Linked DNA regions of Homo sapiens. The protein of the gene in region 1 purifies or fractionates together with the protein of each later gene. This does not show direct contact. Each region holds a gene or a part of one and is shown in the gene's direction. Other genes may lie near its edges.

Evidence for each region. Proteins that work in one complex are often made in the same cells at the same time.
Region 2: the proteins of SLC14A2 (region 1) and ABCF2 purify together in Homo sapiens (affinity purification with mass spectrometry, with the first as the bait; one large-scale study listed by BioGRID). This does not show direct contact.

Annotation. Positions count from the first base shown.
Region 1 is NC_000018.10:45,642,833-45,646,488, forward strand, and holds part of SLC14A2 (urea transporter 2), read left to right. Parts: intron 1-299; coding exon 300-349; intron 350-1,153; coding exon 1,154-1,328; intron 1,329-3,656.
Region 2 is NC_000007.14:151,210,878-151,214,144, reverse strand, and holds the end of ABCF2 (ATP-binding cassette sub-family F member 2), read left to right. Parts: coding exon 1-91; 3' UTR 92-2,661; downstream 2,662-3,267. Other genes in the region: ABCF2-H2BK1 (ABCF2-H2B protein), read left to right, coding at 1-87.

The DNA of each region.
Region 1 (3,656 bases):
TGTATTGACCCCTGACTCCATGCAAGGCCACTATGGAAGCAGGGAGGGGACAAAAGGAAATATATGTTTTAATCTCTGCCCGAAGAATGAACAGTCTGGTGGGAGACTGGCCTCACCTGTCTACAGAGATAACAAATGCCAGGCAAGCATGCCAGCTGTCAGGGCATGGTGCAGAATCTGAGGCTGCAGGAGAGAGGGTGGGGCTCCTGTTCTTGGTCTGGGCTCCCTGGTCTGCAATGGCAGTGGCTTAGGGGGAAGGCCCTGGGAAGCTCACTCTGGTGATCCTTGTTCCTCCACAGCCCTGTTCTGTGCATACATGGAAGCAGCCATCTCCAACATCATGTCAGTGGTAAGTGTGGATTCTCCTGAACACTACCCCAAAGTGCTCTTCCCAGAGCTTCTGGACATATGGGGTTGTGGGGTCTGGGAAAGGAACATTGAGCGGGTAATGGTAGCTGGTGCTCACACGACATCTCTGTTAAGGTTTATCTAAGGTTGTCCGGAGGAGGATTGACAATTGCATACATGTACCTCTAGGAGAGGGAGGGGTGTGTGTGTGTGTTGAAAGATTGCAATGTAACTAGCAGTGGAAAACACGACGGACAGATGGAGCTGTGTGACTGGACATGGGGGAACATCCTCAGGCCAATTTTCAGCTCCATCATTGAAAGATTCTGATTGTGGCTCAAATTATCTGTTTTGTTTTTGTTTTCTTTGCAAGACAGGGTCTCGCACTGTTGCCCAGGCTGGAATGCAGTAGTGCAATCTTGGCTCACTGCAGCTCCAACCTCCCAGGACTCAAGCCATCCTCCCAGTTCAGCCTCCCAAGTAGCTGGGACTAGAGGCATGCACCATCATGCCCAGCTGTCTTTTGTATTTTTTTGGGTCTCACTTTGTTGCCAAGGCTGGTCTGGGCTCAAGTGATCCTCCCACCTTGGCCTCCCAAAGTGCTGGTATTACAGGCATGAGCCACTGCATCCAGCCCTAAATTCTTTGACCAACTACTGTGACATTGCAAATCCAGGAATATCAATGCCTTCACTGGAGGGAGGATCTCCATCCTCAACGCCTGTCACATCCTTCTCCCCCAGAGTCCCCAGCCCAACACAGGAAACTAGGAAACTTCTTCAGTCCCCAATGCTTTTGTTTCCAGGTGGGCGTGCCACCAGGCACCTGGGCCTTCTGCCTTGCCACCATCATCTTCCTGCTCCTGACGACAAACAACCCAGCCATCTTCAGACTCCCACTCAGCAAAGTCACCTACCCCGAGGCCAACCGCATCTACTACCTGACAGTGAAAAGCGGTGAAGAAGAGAAGGCCCCCAGCGGTGAATAGCCATGTTCGGGGAAGAAACGCTCTTTGCCTGACCTGATGTCCTCTCCCTGTGTTCTCTGCTCTGGTTCAATCAGTTGCAGCACTCACCTTCTTTGCCTCTCCTTGCACCTGTGTAGAACCAAGCACACCTGTAACTTTCTTTCCCTGAAGCTGATTTTCATTCTCTGCCAGAATCTCCATAACTATCTATTGTGCGACATTAAGGGATGTTGGTATTACAGTAAAATTTCCGGAGTTAGCAATAAGGTGTGTGTCTTAAATGTTGTTGACTTAAAACAAAAACAGTAGTCTTTTGGAAAGGTAATTAACAGGTGATCTTCTTGGCATCTTAAACTAAATAATAGATGCTATAAAATTAAACTTGTTGAGTGGTTCCTAGGCAGACACAGAGTAGGGGGGTAAGTCAGGGGACACAGGCTAGGAAGGGAAGGCTCTCTAGTGGCTGAGCTAGAGACTAATGACCACAAAGAGAGGAATTTCACACTGATGGGATTTTAAAGTCAAAACAGGGACGATTGGGGCAGGGAATTATCTAAATAAGGAGTCTTAACCATTCAGTGGTCTTTGTAAGGGGCAAGGCGATATTCCATAGCAGGGAGGAATTAATAAATTAGAATCCTATATATGACTTTATTATGGAGGATAAGCATTTCTTAGTTTAGGTCAAACCAGCATCTCTTTAAAATTTAATTTTTTTAATTTTAAGTTCTGGGATACATGTGCAGAACATGCAGGTTTGTTATATAGGTATATATGTGCCATGGTGGTTTGCTGCACCTATCAACCCGTCATCTAGGTTTTAAGCCCCACGTGCATTAGGTAGTTATCCTAGTGCTCTCCCTCCTCTTGCCTCCCATCCCCCAACAGGGCCCAGTGTGTGATGTTCCCCTCCCTGTGTCCACGTGTTCTCACTGTTCAACTCCCACTTATAAGTGAGAACATGTGGTGTTTGATTTTCTGTTCCTGTGTTAGTTTGCTGAGAATGATGGCTTCCAGCTTCATCCATGTCCCTGCAAAGGATATGAACTCATTCTTTTTATGGCTGCATAGTATTCCATGGTGTATATGTGCCACATTTTCTTCATCCAGTCTATCAAGACTTTGCTATTGTATACAGTGCTGTGATAAACATATGTGTGCTTGTGTCTTTACAATAGAATGATTTATAATCCTTTCAGTATATACCTAGTAATGGGATTGCTGGGACAAATCAAACCAGCATCTCTAAGCAGAGATTTCAGTTAAGGAAAGTACCTGAGTTCCATGTGTAAAAAGCTTGGGAAATTTACTTCATTCTTCTATTTGCTTGTGAGCATGGGAGGCTTTATGAAGTGTATGATATTTAAAACAAATAGGTAGCCCTGACTATAGAAAGACAATTATCTATGAATTTCATAATTTTGTTTCTCAACTATAGTCAATAGCTTTCATTTGGTCTTTTTAAATATATATATACATATACAAAGATATATATAGATCGGGGTCAGCAAACTTTTTCTGTAAAGAGCCAGATAGTAAATATTTTCTGCTGGGAGGCCATATATTCTCTTTGGCAAAGTCTTAACCCTGTCATTATAGCATAAAAGTAGCCATAGACAACGTGTAAATGAATGAGTATGGCTATGTGTCAATAAAACTTTATTAAACAAGCAGTGAGCTAGATTTGGTCCACAAGCTGTATTTTGCAGATCCCTGATAGAGACAGTCTACATACTAATGCTTACAAACTGGTGGGCGGTGCACAGGCCCAAACAGACACCACCAAGTCCCTTGCGACATAGCAAAGGGGTTTTACATGCTGGTGACAGCATGAAGACCCTCAGGAAATGGAGGATACCCAGAAAAGTGACAGTAGCATGACTGGAATCAGGAGGACCTGCTCTGGGGCTGCTGGAGAACTAGGATACCCAGTGATGTGCACTAAGGGGTGCAGTTTTAAACCAAGACCCGCCTTCTACATTGTCTGGGAACTATTTCTAAGGTTCACTCTTCTCCAACCTCTCACTCTGTTGTTCTCTCATCTGCCAGAAAGCACACCACTCTTGGACAAAGAAAAACTGATGACCCTTCAGTGCTGGAGTTTTCCAGGCAGGAAGGACAGGGAGGTTCAGAGAATCCCAACGTTTGAAGGGAGTGTGAAGATCAGGTGGTCCGATCCCATGATGCATGAAAACCTCTATAATATTAGGATAAGGGCTTCAGTTCTCTGCCGGGTTTCCAGAACAGATTCAATTACCCAAAATGGAGGCAAGGCTCCCAAAGTATTTTAACAACAGATAACCAGAACCAGAGACCCCACTCATTGCCCTAGAAAATCCCC
Region 2 (3,267 bases), on another chromosome or scaffold:
GCCTGGAGACATCCTGGCTTACAAGGAGCACCTCAAGTCCAAGCTGGTGGATGAGGAGCCCCAGCTCACCAAGAGGACCCACAACGTGTGAGCCCTCTACCTGGGTTCGGGTCAGGAGCTCCATCTGGGAACTAACAGCTGCTAACCTGACCAGCCGCTCAGGACAGGACCCTGGGGCTACACTCCTGCATTGCTGCAATACTGCTCCCCCAGCCTCTCCCCTGCCCCTCAACCTGCCTTAGCTGCACTCTCTTACCTACAGCTGGACAGTACCTGTCTGTTTCCTGTCCTCCTTCCAGTTACATCTGTCCATGTCTGGACTCGGCTGGCCGTTCCCTCCAGCCCCTTGCTGGTTATCTTACTCTGAGTGTGATGCAGTCAGAGGCACCTGCGGGTTAGCCCAGGGGCCCAAGCCCTGGATTTGGCCTGCGGAGGAGCTTAGGATCCTCGTTTTCTGGGTTTTGGTGATGTTGGAGGAGTACCCCCCAGCCCACCGCCCCGATTCCTTTTTGCTTCTGGTTTGGAGCTCCGGACCAGGACCTTCGTCCTGGTCAGTTTTTAAATAATTATTTAGCAGTGTAACTTTTAGACCTGCGTGACATCTACAAAGCGCCCAATAAAGAAAGAGGAAGCCACGGTCCCTACCTTCCTTCTCGGGTCTCTGGGGCCTTCTCCTCCCTGCAGTGCCAACATGCACTGCCCACAGCAGGAGCTGGATCCAGCGTCAGTGTGTCGATGGGAACTGAAGACTAGTCCATAGGAGCTGGAAGAACTTTGTCCCTTTACTTCTGATTTGAAATTGTACCTTTTCTCAGGCCTGTGATTCACAGACTTTAACATGAATCAGAATCACCTGGAGGGCTCATGCAATCAGATTGCCAGATCTCGCCTCAGCGTTTCTGGTTCAATAGGTTTTGGGGGAGACCAAGAACGTTAACATTTCTAGCAAGTTTCCAGGTGATGCTGTTGTTGCTGGTCTAGAGACTATTTTGAGAACCACTGTCCAGGAGCGTGGTTTTCTGATTGTGATCTGAGGTTCTGCCCCAACTGCACAGCAGTTGGGCTGCTTGTTAAAAATGCAGGCCAGGTGCGGTGGCTCACACCTGTAATCCCAGCGCTTTGGGAGGCTGAGGCAGGTGGATCACTTGAGCTCAGGAGTTCAAGACCAGCTTGGGAAACATGGCAAAACCCGTCTTTATGTGCCTGGAATCCCACCTGCTCAGGTGGCTAGGGTGGATGGATCGCTTGAGCCCAGGAGGTGGAGGTTGCAGTGAGCTGAGATTGCACCACTGCATTCCAGCCTGGATGACAGAGCAAAACCCTGTCTCAAAAAAATGCAGACTGGCCAGGCACAGTGGCTCACACCTGTAATCCGACTGTAAGCTCATCACCTTGGGAGGCCACTGTAGGAGGATCAATTGAGCCTAGAAGTTCAAGACCAGCCTGGGCAAAGTAGGGAGACCCCTTCTCTACAAATAGTAATAAAATGAACCGGGCATAGTAGCATGTGCCTGCGGTCCCAGCTGCTCTGATAAGAGGAGGCTCACTTGAGCCCAGGAGGTTGAGGCTGCAGTGAGCAGAGCGTGCCGCTACACTCCAGCCTGATGACAGACCGAGACACTGTCTCAAAAAAATAAAAAAATTCAGATTGCTGAGCATCAGACCTATTGATTAATCGCATTTGGTAGAATGAGAGAGGTGCAGAGATGGCCAGGAGTTTGCATTTTCACACCAACGTCTGTGAACCTCTCTTCCTATTGGGATACAGGAAATTTTGTATTTTTACCTGTCCACAGCCATAGTTATCATCACTGTTGAATTCACTTCCAGCCCAGGGCTCTGCATACCTTATCTGGGTCTTTTGAACTTCAATAGCATTTCACCAGTGGCCATCCTTCCTGGTGTGGATTCATCACTCTGCCTCTGAAATCAGCCATCCCTATGGGAAGACACAGCCATGATTTTTCAGTACTCATAATACAGCCAGGACTGGCGGGAGCAACTGTCCCAGATGGTGCTTAAACCCCTTAGGAGCTCATGATCTTCTTGGAAAGCCAGTAAGACAGAACCATACAGGACACAAATTAGATGCTAAATTGTGATTTAGATAGGAGACAGAAGTATTCAAAAAGGAGGGAAATTTCTTGTGAGTAGCTGCCCAGAAAGGTGGAATTGGTGTGCTCTCACTTGAAAAATGAGTAGGATCTTCTCAGATGGCCACAAAGTCCAGGAGCTGCCCTGGGCAACAGGGACAGGAGCCTCCCGTGAGACACTGCAGCTGAGACAGATGGGAGTCCTCTGACCCCAGAGGGTACTGGCTTGACTGCTTTATGCCTTAAGTGGGGCCTGGAGCAAAATGGCCCAGGTTAGTCTGTCCTGAGAGTCCAGAGCCTTGGTTCAGGGGAGAATGGCATCTGGAGAGTGGGCTGCTGGGATAATGGGGACAGTGAGGGACAGAGCCCTTGATACTTAAGGAAGTGCTGGATATTGCTAAGAATTCAGGTAGTCTCGGGATCTCCAGAGTCTCCATACTAGGACAGGAGATCTTCAGAACCTGGAGGAATGGAAATAGTCTAGTCAGCTTATTTGTCAAGAAAAATGTCAACCTTGGTAATTTAAATAATGCTTTAAAAGTCCACAAAATACATATTTCTAAAATTAGCAGTGCCTTGTTTTGGATTGAGAAGTGGCCTGTTAATTCTCTTAAACCTTAGCCCGTAGGATGTGGCCAGCCGTTCAGAGCTGGGTGGAGAGGTAAGTTGATTGAGGGGTTGCTAGCTTTAACACAGCCAGCAGGTGATGCTGGTCTTTGGAACCCTTCTCCCACCTCTCAATTTGTAACATCCTCTTTTCCCCCAAGCCCCTATACCTTTCATATTGCTCCAGGTTTCTTTAATCACAGCATTCAAGGGCCTGAAGTATTTGTTCCCCCATAGGTGCTAAGTGAGACAATTGACTTTCTCCATTTTGCAATGGGCTTTTCTTCCCTTTACTGCTAACTCCCAAGACCGCCACGTCTGCTTTTCTGGTGAGCACCTATTGCTTTTCTGCTTCTCACCTCCTCCAGTGGTCTTCCTCCCTGTCAGCCTCTTCACCACCTGGGGAGCTTCTGCTATCTGCATCTAGTCCAGGCTCAGGCGTTTTGCTCATCTGCCTTCAGTCCAAGCCTCATTATACTCCGCTCACACTGATTCCACTCTACCTTTCACACCGTTTCTTTCTCTCATTCTTCCCAATTAAAGGATACATCCTACAAGGATACATCCT